3 linked regions of the Homo sapiens genome follow. The protein of the gene in region 1 binds, or shares a complex with, the protein of each later gene. Each region holds a gene or a part of one and is shown in the gene's direction. Other genes may lie near its edges.

Evidence for each region.
Region 2: the proteins of MTOR (region 1) and MLST8 are in contact, whole or in part, in a crystal structure (PDB 4JSV), measured with the Homo sapiens proteins. Residues at the interface, in NP_001373429.1 of Homo sapiens: Leu2269, Arg2270, Met2271, Ala2272, Pro2273, Asp2274, His2277, Leu2278, Thr2279, Leu2280, Met2281, Gln2282, Val2284, Glu2285, Val2286, Glu2288, His2289, Asn2292, Asn2293, Glu2536; in NP_001186102.1 of Homo sapiens: Tyr20, His22, Asp42, Ser43, Gln44, Val45, Asn46, Tyr62, Asn87, Glu105, Gln148, Thr174, Arg221, Tyr222, Leu224, Ser268, Arg270, Gly271, Trp272, Trp274, Ser290, Lys313, Val316.
Region 3: MTOR (region 1) and MAPKAP1 share a complex: the UniProt entries of both Homo sapiens proteins name them as parts of the mechanistic target of rapamycin complex.

What each region holds. Positions count from the first base shown.
Region 1 is NC_000001.11:11,259,514-11,266,724, reverse strand, and holds the start of MTOR (serine/threonine-protein kinase mTOR), read left to right. Parts: upstream 1-4,173; 5' UTR 4,174-4,280; intron 4,281-7,211. UniProt on the Homo sapiens protein: Serine/threonine protein kinase which is a central regulator of cellular metabolism, growth and survival in response to hormones, growth factors, nutrients, energy and stress signals.
Region 2 is NC_000016.10:2,201,466-2,208,521, forward strand, and holds the start of MLST8 (target of rapamycin complex subunit LST8), read left to right. Parts: upstream 1-3,988; 5' UTR 3,989-4,047; exon of another isoform or gene 4,048-4,222; coding exon of another isoform or gene 4,223-4,410; intron 4,411-4,565; 5' UTR 4,566-4,595; coding exon of another isoform or gene 4,596-4,620; coding exon 4,621-4,749; intron 4,750-4,892; coding exon 4,893-4,944; exon of another isoform or gene 4,945-5,013; coding exon of another isoform or gene 5,014-5,031; coding exon 5,032-5,194; intron 5,195-5,569; coding exon 5,570-5,645; intron 5,646-5,727; coding exon 5,728-5,880; exon of another isoform or gene 5,881-6,559; intron 6,560-6,744; coding exon 6,745-6,869; intron 6,870-6,984; coding exon 6,985-7,056.
Region 3 is NC_000009.12:125,704,173-125,711,085, reverse strand, and holds the start of MAPKAP1 (target of rapamycin complex 2 subunit MAPKAP1), read left to right. Parts: upstream 1-3,877; 5' UTR 3,878-4,115; intron 4,116-6,913. UniProt on the Homo sapiens protein: Component of the mechanistic target of rapamycin complex 2 (mTORC2), which transduces signals from growth factors to pathways involved in proliferation, cytoskeletal organization, lipogenesis and anabolic output.

The sequences.
Region 1 (7,211 bases):
ATCTCTCAGGTCAACTGCTTGGTTCTCTTCCAAGTGTCCTTTACTTCCTTTCATTCCTGCTCTAAAGCTCTTTAATAAACTTCGCTCCTGTTCTAAAACTTGCCTCAGTCTCTCACTCTGCCTTATGCCCCTCAGTTGAATTCTTTCTTCTGAGGAGGCAAGAACTGAGCTTGCTGCAGACCATGTAAATTCAGCGCTGGTAACACTCCCATCTCCTCAGTTGGCTGCCCTGCGATCACTAAACTCTTTCTCTGCTGCAGACTCTGCTGTCTCATTGCATTGGTCAACTGTTGCTGTGCAGCAGGCATAGAATCCTGTTGGAACTACAAGAGAAAGATCTACAAGATGCAGTAAAATTTTAAAAATGCAAAATAGTGCGTATAGTATAACAAAAGGGGAAAATAAAAATATATGTATGGGCTGGGCATGGTGGCTCGTGCCTGTAATCCTAGCATTTTGGGAGGCTGAGGCAAGCGGATCAACTGAGGTCAGGAGTTTGAGACCAGCTTGGCCAATGTGGTGAAACCTTGTCTCTACTAAAAATAAAAAAATTAGCCACGCATGATGGCACAGACATGTAATCCCAGCTATTGGGGAAGCTGAGGCAGGAGAATCACTTTAACCTGGGAGGCAGAGGTTGCAGTGAGCCAAGATCATGCCACTGCACTCCAGCCTGGGCGACAGAGTGAGACTCTGTCTCAAAAAAAAAAAAAAAAAAAAAAAGGAATATACATACGTATATATTTGCTTGTTTTTGCAGACAGAAAATCTAGGGATGCATAAGAAACTGAGAAAATACATAGTCAAGGGGCAAGGGTGGAGCAAGACTTTTCATGATAAATGTAACTTGTTTATTTTGAGATTTGAATAGCGACTATATTGCATATTAGAAGCTTTTAATGATAAAAATATAGATGTTGGGCCAGGCACAATGGCTCACGCCTGTAATCCCAGCACTTTGGGAGGCTGAAGCAGGCGGATCACCTGAGGTCAGGAGTTCAAGACCAGCCTGGCCAACATGGCGAAACCCTGTCTCTACTAAAAATACAAAAATTAGCTGGGTGTGGTGGCAGGTGCCTGTAATCCCAGCTACTCAGGAGGCTGAGGCACGAGAATCACTTGAACCCAGGAGGCGGTGGTTGTAGTGAGCCGAGATTGCGCCACTGCACTCCTGCCTGGGTACCAGAACGAGACTCCATCTAAAAAAAAAAAAAAAAAAAAAAATTGAACATCAGTGAAAATGTAAAATTTAGAGGAATACTTATCTCACAGGAGCAATGAAAAGAGGCTAAATCTAAAGTAGCCATTATTACTCGAGAGGCTGAGGCAAGAGAATCGCTTAAACCTGGGAGGCAGAGGTTGCAGTGAGGTGAGATGGCTCCCCTGCACTCCAGCCTGGGTGACAGAGTAAGATTCTGTCTCAAAAAAAAGGAGCAATTATATATATATATATATTTATATATATATATATATAATTTTTTTTTTTTGAGACAGTGTCTCACTCTGTCAACTCAGGATGGAATGCAGTGGTGCAGTGGTGAGATCACAGCTCACTGCAGCCTTGACCTCCTGGGCTCAAGTGATCCTCCCACCTCAACCTCTTAAGTAGCTGGGACCACAGGTGCATGCCACCACACCAACTAATTTTTTGCATTTTTTGTAGAGATGAGGTTTCACCATGTTGCCCAGGTGGGCTCAAACAATCCACCTGCCTCAGCCTCCCAAAGTGTTGGGTCACTGTGCCTGGCCAATATCATAGATATTAACAATAACAACAACAACAACAAAAACCCTGCCAAACAAAGCATTTTGTTAGCCACGGAATATTGACATCTTTATTTGTTTATTTATTTATTTATTTGAGATGGAGTCTCACTATGTTGCCCAGGCTGGTCTCAAATGCCTGGGCTCATGCAATCTTCCTGCTTTGGCCTCCCAAAGTGCTGGGATTACAGGTGTGAGCCACCGCACCCAGCCCAACTATCTTTAATTTGGCAGTTTAGACCTTCTGAAAACTCATTTCTTCTACCTTCACTTGTTTTTATTACATAAGTAATTGATAATGTATAAAGAAAAAAAGTGTGTCTTTCCCAAATTACATCTTAGTTGTGCACATTTCCCCCATGTAAACAGAGACATATAAGAAATGCATAAATATTTTTGTAAATGGTTGTATTATACTTACATTGTTGCACAACTTGTAATTTTTAAACTAGTTGTGAACCTTTTCCTTCTTAGCAAATATTCATCTAATTACCACTATTTATTGTTATTATTATTATTTGAGACAGGATCTTTCTCTGCTGCCCAGGCTGCAGTGCAGTGGAGATCACAGATGACTGCAACCTTGAAGTCATAGACTCAAGTGATTCTCGTGCCTCAGCCTTCCAAGTAGCTGGGACTACAGGCATGTGCTACCACACACAGCTAATTTTTAAATTTCTTTTGTAGAGACAAGGGTCTCACTATGTTGCTCAGGCTGGTCTGGAACTCCTGGCCTCAAGCAATCCTGCCTCGGCCTCCCAAAGTGCTGGGATTCCAGGGATGAGCCACCATGCTAGGCTCTAAATTATAATTATTAATGGCTATGTATTTTTCTTATTATGAATGCATCTTTTTTTTTTTTTTTTTTTTTTTTTGAGATGGAGTCTCGCACTGTCACCCCAGCTGGAGCGCAGTGGCGCGATCTCGGCTCACTGCAACCTCCGCCTGCTGGCTTCAAGGGATTTTCCTATCTCAGCCTCCTGAGTAGCTGGCATTACAGGCACCTGCCACCACGCCTACCTTTTTTTTTTTTTTTTTGTATTTTTAGTAAAGACGGGGTTTCACTATGTTGGTCAAGCTGGTCTCAAACTCCTGACCTCATGATCCGCCCGCCTCGGCCTCCCAAAGTGCTGGGATTACAGGTGTGAGCCACCGCGCCCAAACGAATGCATCATATTTTATTGGACTCCTACTTTGAAATATTTAGGAATTTTCAGTGTTTACTATGACAAATAGCACTGTGATTAAAAAAAAATGTAGTCAAATCCACTTTTGCTGTTGATTTTTTTTTTTTTAATCTGTAGAGACATCGTCTCGCTATGTTGCCCAGGCTGGTCTGGAACTCCTGGCCTCAAGCGATCCTCCTGCTTTGGCCTCCCAAAGTGCGTGGGCCACCGTGACCAGCAGTTATTTATTTTCTTTGGTTGTGTGTGTGTGTGTGTGTGTGTGTGTGTGTGTGTGTGTGTATGTATGTATTGAGACGGAGCTTGCTCTGTTGCCCAGGCTAGAGTGCAGTGGCACGATCTCGGTGCATGCAACCTTCACCTCCCGGGTTCAGGCGATACTCGTGCCTCAGCCTCCCGAGTATCTGGGATTACAGGCGTGAGCCACCATGCCCAGCTAATTTTTGTATTTTCAGTAGAGACGGGGGGTGCGGGTGGGGGAATTTCACCATGTTGACCAGGCTGGTCTCGACTCCTGACCTACGGTGATCCGCCTGCCTCGGTCTCCCAAAGTGCTGGAATTATGGGCGTGAGCCACCGCGCCGGGCCAGCTATTGATTTTTTGAAAGGATTTTTAAAAAATAATGTTGCTTTGAAAATTTTTATTTATGACTAGCTCTTTTGGTTAAAACTTGGCTATGGTTTCTCTGGAGTGATCCTGAGTTGGATAATTTTGGGAAAGTTAGAGAATCTAATTAAAAACATTTTCAAATGCTTATTAATTGTAACAAAAGAGATATCACAGGATCCATAAAGAGCGCTAGCCCGAAACGTCTTTTGATGCAGTAATTCCTGGGCACCGGCATCGCTCACATTCTCCTCTCAGAATTACACCGGGAGGGGTCGCGAACCTCTGCTAGCCGCTCTCGCTGCGATCCGGAGATACCCAGACACCGGACTCCTTGAGTTCACAGCCCGGATGCAGAAGGGAATCCTAGCAGCGCCGTACCGGATGTGTGAGTGGAAGTGACTGAGGTGAACTCACGACCGATTGGTTCTCCCGAGTGGACCCAAGCCTGTTTTCACCTGCCACTGGCCGCGTGGTTTGTCTATTTGAACAGTCCCCGCCCCCTGGAGAAGCCGGGTCCTGAAGCTTCTCTTCTTCATTACTATTGGCCTGTTTTTCAGTCCATCTTCTCCCTATACCTGTCGATTGGTCCTCAGGGCTGGGAACCCTCCTTCCCTCGCTCCCGGCTTAGAGGACAGCGGGGAAGGCGGGCGGTGGGGCAGGGGGCCTGAAGCGGCGGTACCGGTGCTGGCGGCGGCAGCTGAGGCCTTGGCCGAAGCCGCGCGGTGAGTCTAGGGCCTGGCACGACCCCTCTAGGGCGGCGTAATGTCCAGACCCACGGCCAGCCTGCCCGTGGGGGGGCCAGGGGAAGCCGCCCGTCTGGGACGTGGGGTCCCCACATTGCCGGCCCCACGACCTGGGCACCGTCTGAGGCCTTGACTCCCACCCCTCGAGGCAACGCCCACCTCCCCGGGACCCCCAAGAGACCCCTGGACCCTTCGGCCCGCGGTACGTCCGCCCGAAGGCCGGCCCATCAGCTCTGGTATTGCCCTTTGGGTCTTTTGCCTGTCACAGCCACCCTTTCTTTTGAGCCACGTATAAAAATTGTGTATCTCTGCCCCAGGGAACACTAGCGTCCGTGTCAGCCCCTTGTCCTCCACTGTGGACACCTCTCAGAGATCCAGTCCCCGAAACTGAGCTTGGTTACATCGTTGGGGTACATCTTCTCTCCCTCTCCCCCAGCCCCATCCCTGTTTCCCCCATCCAATCTTAACTTCCTTAAGCCCTATCAACACCATTAGGATATTTGACTTCAGATATCCTAAGTTTAATTGAATTCAGTCTGGAGCAGATGGCCTGTGGGCCTCAGATCATATAAAGATACACTGGTTCTTTCCTGAGAATAGAAATCCCTTGCCAGCCACCTTCCCCCCTTTCGGACGCACACACATACACACAAACTGGAGTAGTTTTCTTAGCAGGGATTCTTAAGTTTCTTCTCCCCTAAAGGATGACATTTCTTTCTGCAGTCTTCTTCTTGGCAGTGGAGTATTTGAAAGCTTTACAAAACCAATTATTCCCAGGTTTTTCCTCTGTGCCTTACAAATTCTTTCAAAAATAAGAATTTTGAGAAATTGGTTTTGTAGCATAAGCTGAACATACTTGGGATAGGTGTATGTTACACCCATGGCAGTGTGGGCATAATTGAGGAATGAGGGAATGAGCTCAGGAACTAATTGGTGTTTTTTGTTTTGTTTTGAGACGGAGTTTCGCTCTGTCGCCCAGGCTGGAGTGCAGTGGCTCGATCTCTGCTCACTGCAAGCTCCGCCTCCCGGGTTCCCGCCATTCTCCTGCCTCAGCCTCCCGAGTAGCTGGGACTACAGGCGCCCGCCACCATACGGCTAATTTTTTTTTTTTTTTGTATTTTTAGTAGAGGCGGGATTTCACCGTGTTGGCCAGGATGGTCTCGATTTCCTGACCTCGTGATCCGCCCGCCTCGGCCTCCCAAACCCGGCCAGGAACTAATTACTTTCTTTTAGCTTACATTTGAAGAGCTAGTCCCCTGTAGAACTGCGTTGTTCAGTACAAGAACCACCAGCCACATGTGGCTGTGGAGCACTTGAAATGTGACTAGTCCAGGCCGGGCATGGTGGCTCACACCTGTAATCCCAGCACTTTGGGAGGCCAAGGCGGGCAGATCACCTGAGGTCAGGAATTTGAGACCAGCCTGGCCAACATAATAAAACCCCATCTCTACTAAAAACACACAAAAATTAGCCAGGCGTGGTGCTGCACATCTGTAGTCCCAGCTACTCGGGAAGCTGAGGCAGGAGAATCATTTGAACCCGGGAGGTGGATGTTGCAGTGAGCCGAGATCATGCCACTGCACTCCAGCCTGGGTGACAGAGCGAGACTCTGTCTCAAAAAAAAAAAAAAAAATGACTAGTCCAAATTGACATTGTTGTAAGTGTAAAATGCACATTAGATTTTGAAGACTCGCTAAAAAAAAAGAATGGACACTATATCAATTTTTTAAATATTGATAACATGTTGAAATGATATTTTGGATATATTGGTTTAGGTAATTAATTTCACCTGTTTCTTTTTACCTTTTAAAATATGGCTACAAGCAGCCTTAAAATTACATTTGTGGATCATTGTATTTCCTCTTTTTTTTTTTTTTAATTGAGATGGAGTTTTGCTCTTGTTGCCCAGGCTGTAGTGCAATGGCCCAATCTCAGCTCACTGCAACCTCTGCCTCCTGGGTTCAAGTGATTCTCCTGCCTCAACCTCCCAAGTAGCTGGGGTTACAGGCACGCACTGCCACGCCTGGCTAATTTTGTATTTTTAGTAGAGACGGGGTTTCACCATATTGCCCAGGCTGGTCTCAAACTCCTGACCTCAGGTGATCTGCCCACCTTGGGCTCCCAAAGTGCCGGGATTACAGGCGTGAGCCACTGTGCCCGGCCTAAATTTCCATTAGATAGTGCTGCTGTAGAATAATAATCTCTCTTTTTAGACTGAACTTGAGGAAAGGGGCAGTCTTAGTCATTTTTAATTCTTTCCCTACCTCCTGACATTTGTTACCTGGCATTTTGCCATGTACATAGTAGTAGTAGTAGTAATAATAATAGCTAACAATTATTAAGAACTTAGTATATGCCCTGCACTGTTTTAAACACTTTTTGACACGTATTAAGTCATTTAGTTCTCACATCAACCCATGAACTAGGTACTATTATCTTCCTATTGTAGTTGAAGAAACACATTTTGAGTGTCTTTCTTGAGGTATATAACCTTGTTTTTGTTTTCGTTTGTTTTTGTTTTGAGACAGTGCAGTGGCAGGATCTCGGCTCACTGCAGCCTCTACCTCCCAGGTTCAAGGGATTCTCCTGCCTCAGCCTCCTGGGTGACACATGCCACCACGCCCAGCTAATTTTTGTATTTTTCATAGAGATGGGTTTTCACCATGTTGGGCAGGCTGGTCTCAAATTCCTGACCTCAGGTGGTCCTCCAGGCTCAGCCTCCCAAACTGCTCAAGGTATATAACCCAAGGATTCAAACCCAAGTAGGCTAGGCCGATAGCCCACAATTTAACCTCCCTACTACACTGCCTCTTTTAAACATCAGTCATTGTTTAATGAATCTAGGCTTTCTAAATGTTCCTCAATCAGATCTCTCAACCTTTTTAGAATCCCCTGCCTGACAAGGGCTAG
Region 2 (7,056 bases), on another chromosome or scaffold:
TTTTTGTATTTTTAGTAGAGATGGGGTTTCACCATGTTGGCCAGGATGGTCTCAATCTCTTGACCTCGTGATCCACTGGCCTCGGCCTCCCAAAGTGCTGGGATTACAGGCGTGAGCCACCGCGCCTGGCCTACACTTAGCTAATTTTTTTTAAGGTTTTTGCAGAGAAGAGGTCATCTTGCCATCTTGCCCAGGTTAGCCTCAAACTCCTAGGATCAAGCGATCCTCCCACCTCGATCCCCCAAAGTGCTGGGATTACAGGTGTGAGCTACCATGCCCAGCCAAAAGAAAATGTTACTAGATATGCTGAAAACCAGGAATTTGGCAGGTAAGGCGTAGAGGGAAAAGCATCCCAGACACAGTCAAGGGCTCAAAGGGGAGAACATGGCCAGGTGCTGTGGCTCACGCCTGTAATCCTAGCACTTTGGGAGGCCGAGGCGGCAGATCACGAGATCAGGAGTTCGAAACCAGCCTGGCCAATATGGTGAAACCCCGTCTCTCCTATAAATACAAAAAGGTAGCCAGGCGTGGTGCGGGGTGCCTGTAATCTCAGCTACTTGGGAGGAGTCTGAGGCAGGAGAATTGCTTGAACCCAGGAGGCAGAGGTTGCAGTGAGCCGAGATTGCGCCATTGCACTCCATCCCCGTCAGCAGTGTGAGATTCCGTCTGAAAAACAAAACAAAAGAAAACAAAAGAGGAGAACATGTCTCCTTTGGCCAGAGTACAGGACCCATGGAGTATTAGTCCATTTTCATACTGCAATAAAGAACACCTGAGACTGGATAATTTATAAAGGAAAGAGGTGTAGTTGACTCACAGTTCAGCATGGCTGGGGAGGCCTCAGGAAAGTTACAATCATGGCGGAAGGCGAAGCGGAAGCAAGGCACCTTCTCCGCAAGGCGGCAGGAAGGAGAAGTGGAGCAAAGGAGGAGGAACCCCTTATAAAACCATCAGATCTCTTGAGATCTCACTCACTATCATGAGAACGGCATGGGGGAACCTGCCCTCATGATTCAGTTACCTCCACCTGGTCTCTCCTTTGACACATGGGGATTATGGGGATTACAATTCAAGACGAGATTTGGGTGGGGACACAAAGCCTAATGGTATCACATGGAGAGGAGATGGAAGCCACAGGATGGGCCAGGGCCAGGGCCAGGCCCAGGAGTCTGGAGAGGGACAGGGACCCCTGAGGGCTTCTAATGGGGTGATCAAGTCATTCCTAGGTTTTGCTGGGGGTTTTTGTTTTGTTTTGAGAAAAGGTCTTGCTCTGTCACCCAGCCTGGAGTGCAGTGGCTCAACCACAGCTTACTGCAGCCTCGAGTTCCTGGCCTCGAGTGATCCTTCCACCTCAGCCTCCCAAAGCTGGGACCACAGGCACGCACCACCATTCCTGACTAATTTTTAAATTTTTTGTAGAGATGGGGTATCACTATATTGTTCAGGATGGTCTTGAACTTCTGGGCTCGAGTGATCCTCCTGCCTCAGCCTTCGAAAGTGCTGGGATTACAGGCATGAATCACTGTGCTGGGCTCAGACTGAGGTTTTTAAAAGGCCACTCTGGCCGGGCGCGATGGCTCACGCCTGTAAACCTAGCACTTTGAGAAGCTGAGGTGGGTGGGTCACTTGAGGTTAGGAATTCAAGACCAGCCTGACCAACATGGAGAAACCCTGTCTCTACTAAAAATACAAAATTAGCTGGGATGGTGGTGCATGCCTGTAATCCCAGCTACTCAGGAGACTGAGGAACCCAGGAGGTGGAGGTTGCAGCGAGTCGAGATCGCGCCATTGCACTCCAGCCTGGGCAACAAGAGTGAAAATCCGTCTCAAAAATAAATAAATAAATAAATAAATAAATAAATAAATAAATAAAAGGCCATTCTGCACTGTGGTGGACAGTTTGGAAGGGGGCCAGAGTGGCTGGGGCAAGGAAGGAGGCTTTTATGGGGGATGGGGGTGGTGAGCTAGAACCAGGGCAGTGGAAAGGACAGGAAGGTATATCACAGGTAAAATCGGTGGCTGAAGGGAAGGGAAGGGTGAGGGAGGGGAGGTGTCGGATCTTGCCCAGCTGTAATACAAGGTGGGCACTGCCCACAGAAGGGGAGCTACTCAGGGATGGGTTGTCTTGGCCCTGGAATATGGTGGACCCTGCGGGGCATTCAAGGGACAGTGTCTTAACAGGGAGCTGAGGCCATCAGAGCTGGAGACAGGGTGGAAGGGGCCCAGGACAGGGACAGCATTGGAAGCTCCAGAGCTAGCAGTCATCAGCCCCCTGGTATCTCGTGGGGTGCACAGAGTGAATGCTGAAGGGCCTGAGTCCTTGCGGGCAGGCAGGGAAAGAGACTAAATGTCGGGGACAGGAGCTAGGAGAAGGCAGCCTTTCAGGCATGGTGCCGTCAACCATGGCTCAGATGCGTCAAGAAGTGGGAGGGGGCCGGGCGCAGTGGCTCACGCCTGTAATCCCAGCACTTTGGGAGGCTGAGGGGGGCGGATCACGAGGTCACGAGATCAAGACCATCCACCATCCTGGCCAACATGGTGAAAAGTCTGTCTCTACTAAAAATAGAAAAATTAACTGGGTGTGGTGGCATGCACCTGTAATCCCAGCTACCCGGGAGGCTGAGGCAGGAGAATAGCTTGAACCCGGGAGGTGGAGATTGTGGAGAGCCGAGATCGCACCACTGCACTCCAGCCTGGCAACAAAGCGAGACTCCGTCTCAATAAAAAAAAAAAAAAAAAGAAAGAAGAAGTGGGAAGAGGCCGGGCGCAGTGGCTCACGCCTGTAATCCCAGCACTTTGGGAGGCTGAGGTAGGCGGATCACTTGAGGTCAGGAGTTTGAGACCAGCCTTGCGAACATGGTGAAATCCCGTCTCCACTAAAAATACAAAAATCAGCCAGGTGTGGTGGTGCGTGCCTGTAATCCCAGCTACTCGGGAGGCTGAGGCAGGAAAATCGCTTGAACCTGGGAGGCAGAGGTTTTGCAGTGAGTCGAGATTGCACCACTGCACTCCAGCCTGGGCGAGAAAGCGAGACTCTGTCTCGAGAGAAAAAAAAAAAAAAGGTGGGAAGAAGGAAAAGTATCCACTGGATTTAGCAAAGTGAGATTGTCAGTGACCTTGAGGAATTTCCACTGGAGAGCTAGAGAGCTGGGGGTAAAAGGCAGATGACTGGGGTTGCGGAATGAGTGGGAGGTGAGGACGTGGAACTAGAAAAATGGTGAGGACCGCTCTTTGAAGAAGATAATTTGGGATTGTTTTATGGTGTTTTTTTAAAGGCTAACCGGCAGGAAGGAGAGGAGGTGAAGGTATAGGAAGGAAGGCTCCATGGGAACTATGGCCTGGTCAAGGGACAAGATGCACCCCCTCTGCGGCCAGAGGAAGGGGTGCAGCCAGGTCTGTAAGAGCAGCAGGAAAAAACCATGCGACAGCCTGTCTCAAGGGTGAGGGCACCGGCGTGGAGCTCACAGAGCTGGAATGAGGGCCTGTGGTTTTGAGGGGGACCCTGGGCTCAGTGGGATGTCCTGAGGGTCAGGCTGGGGCTGGGGTGCCAGATCTAGCAAGTAAAACTACAGGATACCCAATAAAATTTTTTTAGCATAAGTATTTCCCATGCAATGTCCTGGATATACTTACACTAAAAAAAAAATTATTCGTTACTTGTCTGAATTCAAGTCCTGTAATTTTCAGCCAATCCTAGCCCAGCGTGGCGCAGTAGTGGGTCAGGGAGGGCACCGGAACAGCGCGACCCGACAGCCCGGGAAACGGACAGCCGTGTCAGAAGGGCAGGTGCCAGTGGGCAGGAGGCCGGAGAGAAAGCCGCAGCTTCCTTCCACCTCGCGCCGGGCCCGCGGCCGCGCACGGGGACCGCTCCGAGTTCCTCCCGGCGGGAACCCCCCGCCCCAGAACTTTGGTCTCGTCCCACCCACCCCCGCCCGCGCCATGGTCTCGCCCTAGGGAGCCATCGATAACTCTACGCTCGGCCTCGATCGACTCGCTCCGGCTCCCCTCGCCGTCCTGGACACGGCGGAGTGCGGAGCCGCCCGTAAGGTACGGAGGCCGCGAGCCAGGGGCCGGGAACCGGCTGCTGGGTGGCTGGGAGAGCACGGCCAGGGGAAGCCGGCCAGCAGGACGGAGCAAGGGCGGTCACCGGAGGAAAGGGGAGCTCGGGGGTCCAGCCAGACTGCGCCCTTTCCCATCAGGGCCTGCCGCTGGCCTGCTACGCATGCGCAGCCGCAGCGCTCGGCTTTCCCCGGCCCATCCGCCGCCTTGCGCACGCGCAGCCCGCCCCTGCGGCAGAGTGGCGCCCGCGCGTGACTCCCCCCTGCCGGCTGCGGAGGTGGGGGGGGGACGGCGCCCCCGCCGTGTGCGTGGGGCGGGGATGGAGCACGCGCCCTGGAGCCCCGGAGCCAGGTATCACGCGTGTGACGCGTGTCCCTGAACCTACCTGCGCTTCTTGTCCCAACTCTAAAATGGGAATGATAAGCGCCATTCGGCAGCGCCTTGTGGGTCTATAATCTACTTAGCACAGAGAGTGTCTTCTAAGTACTTCACATCCTTCTCTGCAGATGCTCTGACCTTTGACCCCTGCCGTTCAGCTCTAGGGCCCGTGCAGGCCACACCATGAACACCTCCCCAGGCACGGTGGGCAGTGACCCGGTCATCCTGGCCACTGCAGGCTACGACCACACCGTGCGCTTCTGGCAGGCCCACAGCGGCATCTGCACCCGGACGGTGCAGCACCAGGACTCCGTATCCTCCACCCGGGGCGGGCAGGGCGGCGCTGGGGGGATGCCTCGTGTGGGGACCACAGCCTGTGTGAAGGCCAGATGGTGGAGGCCTGGGGGGCCCTGGCCTCAGGGCTACCTTCCCGTCATCCTCCTTAACAGTCCCAGCAGGTGAATGCCTTGGAGGTCACACCGGACCGCAGCATGATTGCTGCTGCAGGTATCTGTGATCCTTGATCTCTAAACTCCTGAGCTCTGGTGGGTCGACCTCAGCACAGCCAAGCTTCAGTTCAGCCTGTGTCCCTAGGTTACCAGCACATCCGCATGTATGATCTCAACTCCAATAACCCTAACCCCATCATCAGCTACGACGGCGTCAACAAGAACATCGCGTCTGTGGGCTTCCACGAAGACGGCCGCTGGATGTACACGGGCGGCGAGGACTGCACAGCCAGGATCTGGGACCTCAGGTGCGGTGGGGAGGGGGCGTGCTGCCCGGGGCTGGGGTGGGCTGCTCTGGGAGACCGTTTTAGGTTGGGTTCTCTTCAAGCAGAGGCTGAGACAGGGAGCTTCCTGTGGGCGACTTACTGAGAGAAGTGAGGACAGGAGGAGAGTGAATTGCATCAGAGCGCGAGTCCTGCCTTGAGCCCGGAGCCAGCTTGTTATTCCCCTTCCACCAGCCACTGGCTTAGGCTCCCTGCTGGAGCAGAGGGCCCTGCGTCCCAAGTATTTCCCAAGAGGCAGGTCCTTCAGCAGAGGGAGGGGAGGAATGGCCAGGCCGAGGCCATCTGGGTAGGGCACCAACAAGCCCAGATGGACAGCATGTGCCCCGGCCCGGCCCGCAGGTCCCGGAACCTGCAGTGCCAGCGGATCTTCCAGGTGAACGCACCCATTAACTGCGTGTGCCTGCACCCCAACCAGGTGAGGGGTGCTCATGGGGCCAGGCACCCTGGGACTTTGGAGGGCTGGGCTTGGGCCCTGCCTCACCACCCCTGCACCCCAGGCAGAGCTCATCGTGGGTGACCAGAGCGGGGCTATCCACATCTGGGACTTGAAAACAGACCACAACGAGCAGCTGATCCCTGAGCCCGAGGTCTCCATCACGTCCGCCCACATCGATCCCGACGCCAGCTACATGGCAGCTGTCAATAGCACCGTGAGTCCTGGTGGCAGGTGCTGGGTGCGGGCAGCTTGGCACTCAGCCCTCAGCCTCTGCAGGTGGGCTTATTCCTGGATGTCCCTTAGCGGCCCCCTCCTGCTTTCCCCATCCCGGGCACTAACACCCACCTTGCCAGCAAAGCCAGAAGCCTTAGTGTCGCTCCCGATGGCTTAGTCCTGTCTGCAGGTCGGTCACTCCGCTTTCTGGAGTCTCTCCCAAGTCGATCCACTTCCCTCTTTTCACTCTGTTGCCTCCTGGTCCCAGTCACCCTTGTTTCTGGTGACGGCTGACACACTCTCTGAGGCTTCCTTTCCCCCTCCCTGACCTCCCCTGGCCCCTGACACGTTCTCTCTTGGATGCTTCTAGTGGTGCCTGGTCAGTATCAGCCAGGTGGCGTCATTCCCCTGAGGAGACCCGGGGCTGCTGGCCTCGCCCGTAGGCTGCTGTGGCGTGGCCCCTGCTCTTCTCTCCAGCCTCATTTTTTTTCATTAACTTCATTTAATCCCAGTGCATCACTTGTACCTCTTGCCCCCGGATTTCCCTTCTGCTGGCCTTTGTCATGCTGTCTCTCTAGCTGGTGCCCTTCTCCTGTCTACTTCCGTTGGCCATCGGCATCCTCCAGGAAGGAGAATTTGAGTCCTTGGCCAGGCGTGGCCTCCTGTTCTTGGCTTGCCAGGTGTGGCCCTTGCTTGGGGCCAGGCTTCCCAGGTGCCTTCTGCAGGCAGGACCAGAGGGGCCTGCCTGCCCCTCACCCGGGGTCCCCATGCACAGTTGGCCCCCAGTGTTGGCCCCCAGGGCATCCTTCCCTGTGTCTCAGACCTGAGGCCTTGGGCCCTCCGTGACGGTCCTCCTGACCTCTAGGGAAACTGCTATGTCTGGAATCTGACGGGGGGCATTGGTGACGAGGTGACCCAGCTCATCCCCAAGACTAAGATCCCTGCCCACACGCGCTACGCCCTGCAGTGTCGCTTCAGCCCCGACTCCACGTGCGTGCAGGGCCTGCTGGCCCGGGAGGGGACCTGCCTGGGCTGGGGGCTGGAGAGGGGAGGGGCTGCTGGATGGAGTGGCTGCTGCTGGACACGCCCCATGCCCACCCACTAGGCTCCTCGCCACCTGCTCGGCTGATCAGACGTGCAAGATCTGGAGGACGTCCAACTTCTCCCTGATGACGGA
Region 3 (6,913 bases), on another chromosome or scaffold:
TTGCACTTTGGGAGGCAGAGGCAGGCAGACCACAAGGTCAAGAGATCGAGACCAACCTGGCCAACATGGTGAAACCCCGTCTCTACTAAAAATAGAAAAATTTGCCGGGTATGGTGGCGGGCACCTGTAGTCCCAGCTATTCGGGAGGCTGGGACAGGAGAATGGCTTGAACCTGGGAGGCGGAGGTTACAGTGAGCTGAGATCGTGCCACTGCACTCTAGCCTGGCGACAGAGCGAGACTTCATCTCAAAAAAAAAAAAAAAATTTGTATGTGTGTTAGCTCTCATGGTCCTACCACTGTACACCCCAGGTCAGGAGACAGGTCAATGTATGCTTTAATGACACTTCCACCAATACAACTCCTGCTTCTTGGAGGCTCATGCCATCCAATTAGTTTCTCCTCTCTCCTCCTCATCTACCTCCCCAGTGCTGTTCCTCAGTTGCAGATGCCATGGGGAGCACGTCTGGTTTCCTTTTCACCCCATGTCTGTCCACCATCTTGGGATGGACGTTCACAAGGATCTCAGTTCCTTGACTATCTCATCTTCAGTGATTTTCCCCCCATTCCACTTTAGCTGGGACCCCCTCTCACATGGCTCCTCCTCTGAGGTTATTTGTTGAAACATCCATCTGTGACAATAACCTCCATCCTTCTGCTTTCCTTCATCAGTGACTTCCATTACATCTATTTGAGACCTTTAGGCCAGTGATACCTGTTTTTCTGGAATTCTCTTGCTTCCCTATCCAGCATACTTTCTATGGCTCATTGTTTTAAGCACTCTTAAAAGCTGATATGACCCCATCACACCTGTCTGGCAAAATCCTTCCTTGGATCAATCCAACTTCTCATTCTTTGGGTGTGTGTATCGTGACTGCTCCAACTAGCTATAGAATAATCACACTAGCCATCATATTAGTATCACCATACATTTAGTCTCCATTCTCAACTGGGCCCTCAATACTGTCCTTGAAATCCTACCATATATCACTGCATGCCAACTTACCACAGTAACTACAGTATTTCAAACCCATAGTCGAACTTGACTACAAGGCTTCTTAAGGGTAGGGTCCCCGTCTGGCTTTTTCACCACTGAATCTCAATAGGCACTCAATAAGTATTGCTTACTGACTGAGGTATACTCATACTGGTAGGCATTAGTAAATAATAGTCACATGCCAGGCTCTGTTATATGTAAGCTACATGTATTAGGTCATTCTATCCTTGCAACAAACTAATGAGGTTATGTAGGACTTCTGTCATTCCCATTTTCCAGGTAAAGATAAGAATATTTAGAGAAGCAACTTGGAGAGATGAAGTCACAAAACTTGTAAGTGGCAGAGTGAGTATTCACTTTTTATTTTTCTAATTTTTTTTTCAAGACAGGGCATTGCTCTTTCATCCAGGCTGGAGTGCAGTGGCATGATCACGTCTCACTGCAGCCTTGACCTCCCAGGGCTCAAGCAATCATCCCATCTCAGCCTCCCAAGCAGCTAGGACTACAGGCATTCACCACCACACCTGGCTAAAAAAAATATATGTGTATATGTGTGTGTATATATATATTTTTTTATTTTTTATTTTTTTGAGACAGACTCTCACTCTGTTGTCCAGGCTGGGCTGCAGTGGTGTGCTCACTGCAACCTTCACCTCCCAGGTTCAAGCGATTCTCCTGCCTCAGCCTCTCAAGTAGCTGGGACTACAGGTGTGTGCCACATGCCTGGCTAATTTTTCGTATTTTTTTTTTTTTTTTTTTAGTAGAGACAGGGTTTCACCATGTTAAGACAGGATGGTCTTGATCTTCTGACCTTGTGATCCGCACCCCTTGGCCTCCCAAAGTGCTGGGATTACAGGCATGAGCCACCGTGCCCGGCCTATATAGAGATAAATTTTTTAAGGTAGTGATGGGGTCTCACCATGTTGCCTAGGCTGGTCTTGAACTCCTGGGCTCAGATGATCTTCCTGCCTTGGTCTCTCAAAGTGCTAGGAAATATTTACTCTTTAGAATCTATAACTGCTTAGCAGTTTTAGATAGGTCGAGTTTTATGTGTCTAGGAGACAGTCAGGCAGCTGTGCTTCAGATTGGAACTCGAGAGAGAGAGAGAGGAAAATGGAGAGTAAGATTTAGGAAGGAACAGATAACCTGGTGACCTCAGAAAATCAAATATCCAAACTTGTTCACACCTGCTGCTTTGTTAGAGTGCCTCTGACAGGTCCCTGATGGAACTGTGGTGGTGTGTGTGCAAGAGTGTGTCTGGGTGCTGAGGTGCACTATTCCCCCAGTATAGATATGTGGTAAGATACCAATTACATAAAGTAATGGGATGTAGTAAGAGATCAATCACATATGGTCATGCGTGGAATGAGGATGTTTTGGTCAATGACAGAGTGCATATGATGGTGGTCCCCTAAGATTATAACATGGTCTTTTAATTGTACCTTTTCTGCATTTAGAGATGTTTAGATACACAAATACCATTGTGTTAGAATTGCCTACAGTATATGGTACAGTAACATGCTGTACAGGTGTGCAGCCTAGAAGCAATAGGCTAATACCAAACAGCCTAGGTGTGTAGTAGGCTCTGACATTGTGTAAGTACAGTCTATGATGTTTACACAACCACAAAATCAGCTAACGATGCATTTCTTGTGTCCTCATCATTAAGTGATGGATGACCATATTTGAAATACATGGGTAGACCCACCGTGTTTTTTGTTTTTTTGTTTTGAGACAGAGTCTCTGTCACCCAGGCTGGAGTGCAGTGGCCTGATCTTGGGTCACTGCAACCTCTGCCTCCCGGGTTCAAGCCATTCTCCTGCCTCAGTCTCCTGAGTAGCTGGGACTACAGGTGCACACCACCACGCCAGACTAATTTTTGTATTTTTAGTAGAGACAGGGTTTCACCATGTTGGCCAGGCTGGTCTCGAACTCCTGATCTCAAGTGATCTGCCCTCCTCGGCCTCCCAAAGTGCTGGGATTACAGGTGTGAGCCACCGTGCCTGGCCCCATGGCATATTTATTAATAAGTTTAAAATTGGGCAGGGGTCCCTCAGGGCTGAAATTCAACCTTGAGTTTTTTCTTTTGCTAAGGTGCGTTTTTGAGAGACTTCCCCAAGCATCTTTCAGGTGGGAGAACCACTCTCACTGCACTCCCTGAATCCTTTTTCCCCCTTCATCGTGGCTTTCTCTACTGATTTCCTCCGTGAGAGAGGAAGGGAGCAGCATGAGACACACTGAACTTCTGCCCTGTGCCAGTCCTCCTACATCTCCTGGAAACCTCCCAGCAGGGCTTGAGGAAGATTATTGTCACCTCCATATTACAGATATTATAATAAGAGAAATAACTAACATTGACTGCATGTTTACTATGTGTCAGGCACTATGCTGGGTGTTTTTCAAGCATCATCCCATTCGATTCCCACAGCAATATACTCTAAAGTTGAAACTATTGCCCTGGATGGGAAAACCCGAGGCTCAGAGAGAAGTGTCACATCCTAGGACACACAGCAAGTTATAAGAGCTGGCATTTGAACCCAGGTCTTTCTCAGAGAGGCTGAGCTGCCTCATCACTCATTTCTGGACGAACTAAGGGCTTTTCTCCGTGGAAATGGGGAGAAAGAAGATTCGATGGAGAAGCCTAACACTGATTCCTGCTCAAGGCAAGTCCAGGCACTGGCGCATCTTGCCAGAACTCAGTCTCCGACCCAGGCCTTTCCCTGCACTGGAGAAGCGGCGCGCATGCGCCCGGCCTCCCTCCCGGCCCCGCCCCGCGGGAAGCTACCGCTCCTTGCTTTCAGCTCTGGGGCTTGCGCACTACGTCCCCAGCCAGAGGCTCCTTCCCGGTCGGGGACTTCCGGAACGCCGGGGTGTGGTTCCGGGTCGTGTGCGGCTCGGGGTAATAGGGCTGCTGCTCGGCCGGCCGGCGGCGGCGAGCAGCAGGGGCATGAGGGCTAACCCGGGAAGCGGCAGCTGAGCGGGCCGGGAGGAGCGCCGGTCCCCGTGGATCCCGAGAGTGCAGAGCTCGGGGCAGGGGCCGGGAGGCGTGGGGGAGCCGGGCCCTCCCCTCAGGAACGTGTCCCGGGGCCGACCCGGCCCGTAGTGTGGAAGCAGCTTCAGGTAAAGGTTGCCCCAGCCGCCAGCTCCCCGCCCGTCCGTCAGCCCACCAGCTTGCCCACCTGGCGGCCCTCTCACCCCTCCAGTTTCAGCGCTGCCCGGCGGGCCGCCTGCCGGGCCCTTGTTCAGGTGGCCCGGGCGCGTTCGTTTCCTGGCCATTTCCAGAACTGGAGGCTGTCAGGAGTCTGAGGCGGGTGTGTGGTTTAGGGGAAAAGAAGCCAGCTGACCTGGTAGTGTGGGGGTGGGGGGTGTAGTTGACTCCGGCAGTTTCTGGGCCTGCACTTGGCAATATCTAGGTGCCCTGGTCTTCATAATGTGAAAATCAAGGTTTTCAAGCATTGACTGTGTGGTCCTTGTTTCCTTGCGTCCCTTCTCCCCCTCCCCCTTAAAGAGGTTAACAGCCTTACAGACTTTTTTCTAGCTACAGTGCTGCTGGAACTTTGATTCATTCTTTGTTTATGGGAGTGGCAAGGAGTCATTTAGATTTGTTTAAGGCTGGGAAAAAGAGATTGTAGCGTAAACAAGATTATGACTTTAACCAGAGACCCCCAAATTGACTCAGAAATTGGTTAAAACTTCCTTTTGAATGAATGAAAGTCACTTTGGAAGCCCACCACAGTACCTGGCACTGTACAAAGCACCATGTTGTTATAAACCCAAATCGGCAAAGTTCAAAACTTTCCCAGGTGTGAAGAGTCAAATGGAGACCCATTGGTTTAAAAAAAGCAGCGTTCTCATTCTCTGACAAGCAGGAGAGGTGGATCCGTAATGTTAAAACCCACTTGAGCAGAAGCCTAGATATGGGTTTTATTCCTTATATTTTATGAGCCCACACAAGGTACCTAGTAAACACGGAAAGAGTTCTTGATGAAGCAATAATTGTTTTCATGTTTTTCAGTTTACACACCTGCGGGATTTGGGGCATGCTGGTAGCCCTTTCCCATTCATCTGTGTGCTCATGCCTACCTTCAACTACTGTGTGTCCCAGACTGCACTTACACCCCCTTACATCTCCTAATCTGGCTCCTGGTTACCTTTCCAGTTATGCTTGAAAAGGTCTCCTTCTTTAATTACCCCATCCTGATCCATTACTCTGAATAAGTAGGATCTCTAATCATTTTTGTTCTTTCCTATTCCATTGATTTTTGTAGAACATTCTCCCTACCTTGCCTAGGTTTCCCCTTTTCTCTTTCAGTCTATTGAGACGCTTCCCACGGCTCAGCTGAGTTGGCCTCACCCAACCAATTCAGGACAACCCCACCTGGAAATGATTTTTCCTCTAGAATTCTATAAGCGCTCATTTTTATCTACAATTATTTAACTTAGCAAATGTTTACTGAATATGGATATGTATATATATGCCAGGTACCATGCTAGGCAATTAGAGATAAATATAAGATTCAGTCTTTGCTGCCAGGGAGCTCAATTTAGTGAAAGAGAGATAAGGGAAATGAATAATTCTAACACCGTGATAAGTACATTGTGTGAGAGTTCTTGTGACAGTGGTAGGTGCGGGAGGGGAATGGGTTATTCACCTTTGAGGGATGGGATGTGGCCAGGTAATGCTTCATAATTTGAGGTAAACTAAACTTTGAGTATTTGGGTATTATATAGGGGTTTCTATTGTTTAATCATTTTAACCTCAATTTACAGATTAGGAAGACCCATAATAAATTACACAGCTGGTAGGAGACAGAGCCAGGATTCAAACCCAGGTCTGTCTGATGCCTAAATCTGTGCTTTTTCCATTACATGTCTTGCCTTTTTCTCACATCATCTCCCTCTTTTTATGCAAGTACATATTGAAACCAAAAGTTATATAGGACAAAACATATGAATGTTAAAATGAATGGTACAGAAATCTTTTAAATGTAAAGACTGTGCTCTTCCAAGGCAAGGAGATGGCAGGTAGGTTAGTTAGCTCAGCTTTGAATATGAGCAGAGAAGACAGTCTATAGAAAATAGGCATGGACTCTGGATTCAATTCCTGGTCCCTGTTCTTACAGGATATGTGACCTTCGACACATAACTCCAAGCATCACTTTCTTCAACTAGGGGTTGGGTTAGGGAATAATATTGACCACATGGAGTGTTGTGAATATTTATTGAACTAATGGGGATAAAGGGCCTGGTACGTGGTAAAGTCCCCCGAAATAAATAGCTATAAGATACAAAGGTATAATGCTTGAGGCATGGTTTTAGACTGGTGAGTGAGTTTACAGCCTGAGTCATGCAAGTCATTGCTTCTTTTAGCAGGGTACAAGGACGTAAAGTTGGAGGGGCGGTAGGGGTCAGAGTCAGTGAGGGCTTGAGTACCAGGCAAGGGAGGTAAATTCCAGTTTCTGCTAATAACTTTTCCAGTTAATAAATACTTCGAGGATCTACGATTCATTTCAGCAGTGCCAAGCAAAATGTTAGACCTTGGGGATACAAAAAGAAGTAAAATTGGGTCCCTATCCTGAGGTTATTGACATTCTAGTAGAGGAGATGTCTGTGTGTGTGCAGGTGAACCATAATAAAGTACTGTGGGTTCTAAGGTAGAAGTCCCCAGGAGGTACCATAGAACACTGAGAAGGAAACACTGATGATGGTAGGTAATGAGTACTTACTCTGCTGGTGTGATGTTAAATGCTTTATCTCATTTTTTTCTCGTGTGAGAAGGTGTTATTAGCATCCTGATTTTACAGATGAGGAAACTGGGGCACAGAGACCTTGAATAACTTCCTTGAGTTTATGCTGCTGGTAGAGCTGTAAGATAGAGGGGATTATCTGCTGAACACTGAGATCGGCACTCTTCATTA